2 separate regions of the Homo sapiens genome follow, and region 1 is linked to region 2. Evidence: fine-mapped expression QTL. Tissue or cell type: whole blood. Region 2 holds a variant in brackets; the other region holds the start of a gene. All regions are shown on one strand. Distances are between the middles of the regions.

What was found. PIP is the estimated chance that this variant, and not a neighbour inherited with it, causes the effect.
Region 1: it holds the start of NDUFAF5, and the variant in region 2 is fine-mapped to the expression of NDUFAF5 in whole blood (TOPMed, PIP above 0.99).

The regions. Positions count from the first base shown.
Region 1 is chr20:13,782,358-13,787,357 of GRCh38, forward strand. NDUFAF5 (NADH:ubiquinone oxidoreductase complex assembly factor 5) reads left to right here and starts at 2,671. Exons shown (of 11, transcript NM_024120.5): 1 at 2,671-2,933; 2 at 4,955-4,995. The coding sequence starts at 2,712. ESF1 (ESF1 nucleolar pre-rRNA processing protein) reads right to left here and starts at 2,562. Exons shown (of 14, transcript NM_001276380.2): 1 at 2,523-2,562; 2 at 147-826. The coding sequence starts at 783. RefSeq lists enhancers at 2,607-2,896, 2,892-3,581.
Region 2 is chr20:13,897,878-13,902,877 of GRCh38, forward strand. The region is part of intron 5 of SEL1L2 (SEL1L2 adaptor subunit of SYVN1 ubiquitin ligase); the gene reads right to left. Among named protein-coding and RNA genes, the nearest start is that of SEL1L2, 90 kb to the right of the region's middle. The variant T/C (reference allele first, on the strand shown) is at 2,124.

The DNA.
Region 1 (5,000 bases), 120 kb before region 2:
TTCTTTTATAGCTTTGTATTTCCAGATAAGCATTTGACCATTCCATAATACTATGAAAATACTTATTAATGTGTTTACATTTTTGAAAGATCAGTATAAAAATAAATAATGTAACACCCAAGAATCTCTAATTTTTTCCAACCTACCTGATTGCATTTCTCTTCTTGTCTTAGAACACTCGATTCTGGGAGATTTCACAATTTCAGAGGTGCCTGAGTCTAATGTCCTTTGTTTTTCTTCGAGAGAAGAGTCTGTAGTATGTTGAACAATGTTTTTTTTCTCTTTCTTATTTTTTTGTGTAAATTCTTTGCTATCCTTCTTCGGACTTATGTTTGAATCTATCTTAAATTTACATGAGGTTTTCATTTTTTTAATTCCTATAGAATTATCTAAATCAGTTTTATTTTCAGAACCCTTGTGATTAGCCTTCTTGGTTTCTTTCTTTTTCTCAACTAGATTTTTTGAATCGATTTCTTTTTTAGTCTGGGTTTTTTTCTTCTTTATTTTCTTTTGACTCAATGCTTTGCTATCTTCACCAGAGAGATTGGAATCAGAATCTGAAAGGTCGTAAAAACGCTTCAAATCCTCTGTAGTGCTATGGCTAATGGGGCGCCCTCTTTTATCCACGGCATAGTTCAACTTGAACTTCTTGTCATGAAACATGGCTCGAAATCTCTTGTCAATTTTGACTTTTCGATCCTTTTCTGGCATTTCCCAAAATCTCGGGTCCTTTGCAACCCGTCTAAACCGCTGGTCACTCATTATTTCTTGTTTGGATGACATTTTTAATTCTTAATCTCGACCAAATGCTTGAAGAAAACAAATACTGAAAAATAAAACAAATGTTTTAATGGTAATAATGGTTAGTACAATAATTAAATGTTTTAAAACACATTCACAATATATTCTAAGTTAATATATTCTAAGTTAAGTGTACATAAAATAGAGGTAACAAGTCTAATTTCATCTCTCCAACGTATTCTGGGTCACATGCAAAAAAGCAGAAACATACCAAAATATCCTCTTTCCATGACAGATCATTTAGAGAAATAAACTTAAGGTAGACAAAGCAGAATCCCAGGGCTTTATGGAGGGGAACAAATGTTTATTCATCCATTGCTCTCACTTAGAATTTCTATTTGTATACCAGTATGTGTTACTAATTGAAGGCAAATGTAGTTAAGATTCCCTAGGCCGAGTGCGGTGGCTCACCAGCACTTTCGGAGGCCAAGGCGGGCGGATCACTTGAGCCCAGGAGTTCAGGACCAGCCTGGGTAACATGGTGAATCCCCACAAGAAATACAAAAATGAGCCCGGCATGGTGGCGCGCGCCTGTAGTCCCAGCTACTTTGGAGGCTAAGGCAAGAGGATCACTTCCACCCGGGAGGTCTTGGCTAGAGTGAGCCTAACGGCACTACAGCACACCAGCTGGGGCAACAGAGTGAGACCCTGTCTACCAAAAAAAAGTAAGAAAGAAAGATTCCCTAGCCTCCGTTGGCCTCATTTGTTTCTTCACATTCTGGTCTCATTCTGCTTACTCCTTATCTCCGGCTACTGCCAACAAACAGCCTTTAGTTCTGTAAGACTAGCATTCTAACTAAACAGACCAAAATCAACTCAGGTTTAGCTAAGAAAGTTTCCTTTTTAAATTCGATCATCCTTCAAAAGTAATAAAAAGTTTAAAAATAAAAAGTAAATTTGAGTCTCCAGGTAAAGTCTCACACCAGTTAATAAATATCACTTCTTTCTATAATATCTGATTCTACCAGTGATGAAGGCCCAAGTGAGCTCATTCCCCCAAAACATACTAGAACATATACATATGTGTGTATAAATTAATATTGTTCCCTTGTGAAAAGTCTCCAATGGTTTAGCATCTCTGGATGGGAATTTTGCAAAGAGCCAAAAGTCGTTGATTATTAAGCAACCCCCCCCCAAAATGATTAAAAGGGCAATATTTCTTATTTAAAAATCAAGTCCTTTTAATTACACTAACTAGGAAAAAAAAGGAAGCTATCGCTGGTGCATTTACACATTTTTCGATGTATTACAGCACTTAACTCTCTGAGCAATCTTACGAGGTAGGTACCACCTCAACCAGGAGAAGTACTGCATGTATTGTAAATGTTTAGAAGGAAAGCACTCATTATATGTCAGATAATCCGAGAGAGGGGAAGGCGACCGGACCTCACTCCCGACACGCGCCCGCATCCCCGTAGCCCACCCTCCCCTTCTGCCCGCTCTCTAATTCGGAGAACACAGGGCTGGCCCCTGAACTAGGGTCTCCTTTCCACCTCCTGTACCGCAGGGGGGCAGCTAACAGACTGATTCGAGAAGCGACCCTGAAAAGGATCGATGAAGACTGAAGAATGAGACCGAAAAAGGCTCAGGAGGAAGGGGCAAAACCCCTCGCAGATCCGAAAGAGATCCTGTTAGAGACTAGTTTTTTCCCCGCGCCACACACACACACGCCCTCAAGCCCTTCATCTCGAGCTCTTCAACTCCAGTCCATCCCCACTCACCGTCCGCAGTCCTACCAAGCCTCACGTGGGGCTCACACCCACAATCCTCCGCGTGACGCTCCGCCGTAATGGCAAGCGAACTAGGCCAAACTACTTGCACGTTCCCTCGAGAAGATCTTTGGAGTAGACACAAAAGCCGCGCTGGCGCATGCGCACAAAAAGCGCCGGCAATTGGGGTCGCAGCTGGAGATGCTGCGGCCGGCAGGGCTCTGGCGCTTATGTCGGCGACCTTGGGCGGCGAGGGTCCCAGCGGAGAATCTTGGCCGTAGGGAAGTCACCTCTGGTGTCTCTCCCCGCGGTAGCACCTCGCCCAGAACCCTGAATATTTTCGACCGGGATTTGAAAAGGAAACAGAAGAACTGGGCAGCCCGGCAGCCCGAGCCGACCAAATTTGACTACCTGAAGGAGGAGGTGAGCCCGCGGGGCGGCGGGGCGGCGGGGCGGGCGACGCGGAGGCTTGTTTTCCTCTCCGCTAGTTCCGGCTAGGCCCCGAGCTCACCCCACCTAGCCGTCTGACCTTGACCAGCAGCCCTGCCTCTTTCGGCCTCTACTGTAATCACGCAAGGCCTGGCCTCGGATATTTGTAACATGCTTTCATTCATTCATGCATTCATTTCGGCAACGTCCTTGAGGCTGAAAGGACCTTATAGAGGCCTCCAGTGAAGCTCCGGAGAGGGAGAGAGTGGGAGAGAAGGTTAGGAGGACCCAAATCATCAGGGCCTTGCAGGATAGGGACTTGGGGTTTTCTTCTGTATCTGCACTGTCCAGCCAGTATGGTAACTGCCGGCCACACATGTGGCTGTTGAACACTTGAAAGGTGACTAGTCCAATTGAGATGTGTTGTAAAATACACACGAGTATAGTGACTTAGTATGAAAAAAGGATGTAAAATAGCTCATTAAGAGCTTTTATATTGATTACATGTTGCAGTGATTATTTTTGATATATTGGGTCACATGAAATATATTAAATATAAATTTAAATTTTTCAATTAAAATTTCTCTCGTTTTTACTTTTTTTCTTATGTGGCTACTAGAAAATTTGAAATTACATATGTGGCTCTCATGATTTTTGGTCAGCACTGCTCTAGGGGAATGTGAAGCTCTTGTTTTAATCAGTGGAGTGATCTGACTTATGTTTTAGGAAGATCAAATTAAGATTTCTGATTTGTCTTGGCTCGTTTGAGAAACCTTTCTCCCTGCCCAGGTGAGCCAGAGACTGAGGGTTTCTACTTTCAGGACACGCATTCTCAAGTTCAGGCCTCAGTAAATTTTTATTCAGGAGTGGAACAAAGTTGGAGTCAAGTATAATGCAACAAACAGTTATTGAACTCATAGCTTGAGCAGAGCTCTGTGCAAGTACAGGTCTGATCAGATGATTGACAGGGTGTCTTTCTCAGGAAGTCTTAGGCTGGTAATGTCTATTATAGGAAGTTTACTACCAATAAATTTTTTGTGTCTCACTTGTAAGGCATGGTGCACGTACTACACTGCTGATGTCGTGTACTTAGAAGATGTGCGCTCATAGCCCTTTCCCTCCAAAGAAAGCACCTGGACTACAACTTGATTGAGGCCTCGCCAATTTGTGAGACTAGAACAAATAAGATAAAGTATATGAGAGTTCTTTTTATAATAAACATAGGGTGTTCATATTAGGAATGACGTACAAGGTGGACTCCTGGGAAAAACATCTACGCTCCCTTCTCCCTTGCCCTTCTCTCAAAAAGCAGGTACATCTGTGTTTGGAACTTTTAAGTCCTAAGAGCAACTCTGGGGTGTTTATGAGGGAATGAGTGGAATGTGGGGAATACTAGACTCCCACGTCTTTATTGCTACCAGATGAAGCTAGGCCAGCAAAAGGTGGTGCTTACCTTATGACTCTTAAATTGGGATGGGATTGGAGCAGGGGAGGTGCACTTTCCTCAGATTTGGCTTTTTCTAACTTGCGAATGTCACTCAGAAAAGTTGTTCATTTATGAGTTCCACAAAATTTGTTAGTCATCAAATAATAGAGTTTTTCTTAAGTGACCACTTACATACTCATCTACAATAAACCCCAACTAACTAATTTTTCACTTTGTGTACCTCATGCTAATATCCGTGGACAGTAATGTGCCTGTTGTGTTCCTTTTGCTTTTCATCCTTGTGATCTTATGTCACATGGAATGTAAAGGCCACATATATATATGTGTGTGTGTGTGTGTGTATATGTATATTTTTAAGAATATTTAGTCTGGATTTCATGAAATTGACTTCTGAAATAATTTGCCTCAATTTTGTTTCCTGGTGGTTTGAGAAGAAAGTTCCTGTGGTGAAATTGAAAAGGGGATAAAGGGAAGTACTTATTTTAAAACATAAGTAACTTGTGGATTGTTGAATACTGGAAAAAGAGTGTTACTTCCCCGTTAACCTACGCCTCGTGTAATCCTTCAGGTTGGAAGTCGGATCGCAGACCGTGTATATGACATACCCAGGTAAG
Region 2 (5,000 bases):
AACAAAACAAAAAAAAACCCCACAATAAGATATTACTTCATACCTGTTAAGATGGCCACTATAAACACACACACACACACACACCCCAAAAAAACCCAGAAAATAAAAACCGCTGGTGAGAATGGGGAGAAATAGGAACCTGTGCACTGTTAGTGGGAATGTGAAATGGTGCAGCTGCTATGGAAAACAGTATGCAGTTTCCTTAAAAAATTAAAAAATATAATTATCATATGATCCAGCAATTCTACTTCTGGGTATATAACCAAAAGAACATAAAGCAGACTCTCAAAGAGTCTAGTTTCCACCCAGTAGGTGGAGCTGACACATGGGTATTGATTAGAAGTCTATAAAAAGAGCAGTCCTAACCCCTGTCCTGTGCAGCCAGGCAGATAGCCCATCCCCTGACCCCACTGGAGATGGGAGGCTTATTCCCTGGAGAAATTAAACCAAGGAAACTTCAGACTTTGAGACACAGACACATTAAAGAATATGGGTGAAGAACAAGGCTGAAAACAGGAGTATTAGAAGAGTCTACATTCTGTATAGTGAGTCTCCGGCTCTCTTTCCCAGAACTCTCGTATTTATAACCCCACACAGGAGGTATCTGAGATACCTTCTACTCTCTTACCCCAAGTAACCAATTTACCATCAACTTCCAGTGAATTTCACCTCTACAATATCTCTCTAATTCATTTCTTCCAGCACCTGCTATTGTGAGCTAGTCTCAATTCTCATCAGGACAATTGTAGTAGTATCCAGGCTTGTTCTCCTCCTGTCCATTCTTCATTTATGGGTAGAGCCAAATCTACTTATGTCACCTGGGCCCTGTTTAGCACCTTTTAATGGCTTCCCATTGTTTTTTTATTTTTAGTTATTTATTTTGAGACAGAGTCTCGCCCTTGTCACCCAGGCTGGAGTACAATGGCCCGATCTCGGCTCACTGCAACCTCCGCCTCCCGGGTTCAAGAGATTCTCCTGCCTCACCCTCCCGAGTATCTGGGATTACAGGTGCCTGCCACCATGCCCAGATAATTTTTGTATTTTTAGTAGAGATGGGGTTTCACCATGTTGGCCAGCTGGTCTTGAACTCCTGACTTCAGGTGATATGCCCACCTCAGCCTCCCAAAGTGCTGGGATTACAGGCATGAGCCACTGTGCGCAGCCTGTTTTTTATTTTTACAATTTATTTATTTATATTTAAAAAGATGCCATGTGACACTAACCCATTGTTTTTTAAATATTCTCTTGAGTATACTAAATTGACACATATCATCTGTAAATAATAATTTTGTAAGTTCCTTCATGTAACTCTTATTTCCTTTTACTTTATTGGGTAAAACTTCCAGAACAATGTAATGAATTGTGGTCATGGCATGTATTCTTTTTTTTGTTTCTGATTTTAATATGGATGTCTGTTGTGGTTTGCTATTATATATTACATTTTGCTAATAATTTCAATTAAATGCTCTCAGTTTACTAACTTTTAGAATCAGAAACAAATGTTGAATTTTATCACTCTATTTTCAGCATGTATTATAATTATTTATATTTTTTCTTCTTAGCATAATAATAAAATTCACTTAACCAGCATTTACTAAGCAGATGGTGCCAGGCACTGTCCTCTGCACTGGAGGTAACAGAAATCAACAAGAAAGTCAAAGCCTGTGTCCTTCCCTGGCAGAGGGTGGAAGGGCAGAAGGAACGAACTTCCTCCCTCAAGCCCTTTTTTTTATAAGGGCACCTAGTCCTATACAGGGGGTGCCACCCTCATGGCTTAATCACCTCCTGAAGGCCTCACCTATTAATATTGTTAAATTGGGCATTAAGTTTCAACATGGATTTTGGAGAGGACACAAACACTCAAACCACAGCAAGTACCATGAAGAAAACTGAAGCAGGATAAGTAGGTAGAAAGTGATAGGGTGCTATTTTATTGAGATTAAGCTACAAAAATGTATTCTTAATGTTGAATTATCTTAATATTTCTGGTTAAAAATCCTACTTGATTAAATTTCATGCTTTTCAATTCGCTAAAATTTTATTTAGAAAACTTATATTGGTGTTCATAAATGAAATCTGCCTGTTTTACTCTTCTGGATTCTTATTAAGGCATTTTGGAATGA[T/C]ATTTAAAGATTTTCTTTTTTAAAAATGATTTACATAATAGAAAAAAATTTCTGATGGTTTTATTTTATAGAATTTCCCAGTAAAACCATCTGAGTGTAGTGTCTTTGGAGAGGCTTATCTTTGACATTTTCAGTTTGTTCCATAGTTATAGGTCTAGTCAAGGCTCCTACCACACTGATATGAGTGTGACCTATAATACCCTACAGGAGGAACTGATTTATATTTTCTGGAAAATGTCTTTATTTCATCTAGATTTTAATGTATTCACATAAAGTTGAATATAGCACTGTCTCATAATTGCTTACATTTCTTTCAATCTGTGGTTTTATTTTTAAATTTGCAATGTTATCCATTAGTTATTTTTAAAAAATTGTGATAGACTGGTCATGTAACTCAGGGGCCCTGGGTTTTCTGGTACACACTGAAAAAGTGCCCACTTGTAACTGTTGCACCTTGAGTTCTTGTTGTTTCAAAAAGTTCCTGGAGAAGCTCGGCCCCAGAAAAACAAAAAACAGTTGGATCCAGAGATGGCTGAGTAGGAGATGAACTTTGGCGAACTCTTATTGTTATAATCTTAAAAACCCGGCCCAGGGAGGAGCTTATTCTCCATTTTCTATACAGGCGACATATGTAGAAACATAATCCGCCGCTGTGCCTGTGCGGCCAGGACTCCCTCTCTACACGCAATGATTCAGCTGACCAGCCCAAGACATGCTCGGTTTTCACGCCTGTTTGTAGGGGCACTGCTTTGGGGCACTACCTCCGGTGTCCTCCTTACTTGTTTCAAGTAATAAAATCCCCTTGTTAAATCCTCCTTGTTTATGGTCATTGGGGGCTCACCTGGCAACAACCAAATGCACCTATTATATGAGTAGCAGCTAGAGTTTTGTCCCCATTATTGGGAGCATTTTAAAGAACTAAAGAATCATCTCGTTTTTATTTATGAAATAAATGACTTTGTTCTCGAATTCATTATATTGATTTCAGTTTTTGTTTACTAATCCTTTTGTCCTACCTTTATTTTGCTAGAGTTAATTTTTTTTCCTTTTCTTTTTCTTTTTCTTTCTTTCTTTCTTTTTTTTTTTTTGAGACGGAGTCTTGCTCTGTCCTCCAGGCTGGAGTGCAGTGGCGCGATCTCGGCTCACTGCAAGCTCCGCCTCCCGGGTTCATGCCATTCTCCTGCCTCAGCCTCCCGAGTAGCTGGGACTACAGGCGCCTGCCCCCATGCCCGGCTAATTTTTTGTATTTTTAGTAGAGACGGGGTTTCACCGTGTTAGCCAGGATGGTCTCGATTTCCTGACCTCGTGATCTGCCCGCCTCAGCCTCCCAAAGTGCTGGGATTACAGGCGTGAGCCACTGTGCCTGGCCATTTCTTGTTTATTAAAACACGTAAAGCTGTATATTTTCTTCTGCGTCTGGCATTAGCCCTATTCTGTAACTTTTACTATGTAGTATTATCATCATGATTGAGTGCTTAATATGTTATTTCAATTTCTATTTTGCTATTAATTAGGAGACTTGTAATTTTATAAAAAATGTGACTAAGCTATCTTTTTGTCATTATTTTGTAGTTTTATTGCTTCTAGTCAAAGCTACCATTTCTCAAATAAATTGAGATTTTTCTTTGTGGAATCTTTTTTTTAAATTTTTTTTGCAAATTTTTTTCTTTTTTTTTTTTGAGACGGAGTCTCACTCTGTCGCCCAGGCTGGAGTGCATTGGCACGATCTCAGCTCACTGCAAGCTCTGCCTCCCAGGTTCCCGCCATTCTCCTGCCTCAGCCTCCGGAGTAGCTGGGATTATAGGCGCCCGCCACCACGCCCGGCTAATTTTTTGTATTTTTAGTAGAGACGGGGTTTCACCATGTTGGCCAGGCTGGTCTCAAACTCCTGACCTCAAGCAATCCACCCGCCTCAGCCTTCCAAAGTGCTGGAATTACAGCCATGAGCCACTGCCCCTGGCCTTCATACTTACTTTTAATTACATATAGATTAAGGGGTGGTTTATGAAGAAATTTCCAGAAAAAGGGTAGTAATTTCTGGGTTGTCAGCTCATTGCCACGGAAAAGGGCAGTAACTCCAGGGTGTTGCCATGGCAATGGTAAACTGACATGGCACACTAGTGGGTGTGTCTTATGGAAAGCTGCTTCCACCTCATCCCTGCTTTAGCTAGTACTCAATTTGGTCCAGTGTCCAAGCTCTACCTCTGGAATCGAGTCCCACCTCCTATCTCGGATCCACTGATTGATTAGGGGTGGCAATGAAGACATTATAATTCTGTCATTCCTTCTTCATTTATTAGCTGAAATAATTCTATAAAGAAAAATGTCACCCATACTCTATTGTGCAGAATAGGCAAGATAAATACTTGACTCCCTTGATCAGTTTTCAAAATAATGTGAGTTGGTTCTTTAATGTCCCCTGAAGTGATGAATAAGTGTTGTTTCTAGGTATCATTATGAACAAATGGATTTAAATGATTTTAGATGTTTCAGTCCATTGCGATCATTATTCATTTTGGTGCTTGATCATTCCAGCTTTAGCCGGTGGGAGCCTATTTGAGTTGGATCCTCCATCCCTTGGTCATGACTCTAATTTCCTGACACCATCCTTCCTATCAGGTATGATAAGATGTTTTAAGATCATCTTGTACATTTATTCTCCACACCTGGAATTTGACATTTTCCAAATTGCTGGTCCCTTTTTAGTAGAAGAAAAAACGTCTGGTTTTTTCTTTAAAAACAATTATTTTGAGAGGAGAGAGTTAATATCTAAATTTAACTTTTAAAATATTTTTGTCAAATTAATCAATGCAAGTGTATGAAAAGTAAAATTCCGGCCAGGCGCGGTGGCTCACGCCTGTAATCCCAGTACTTTGG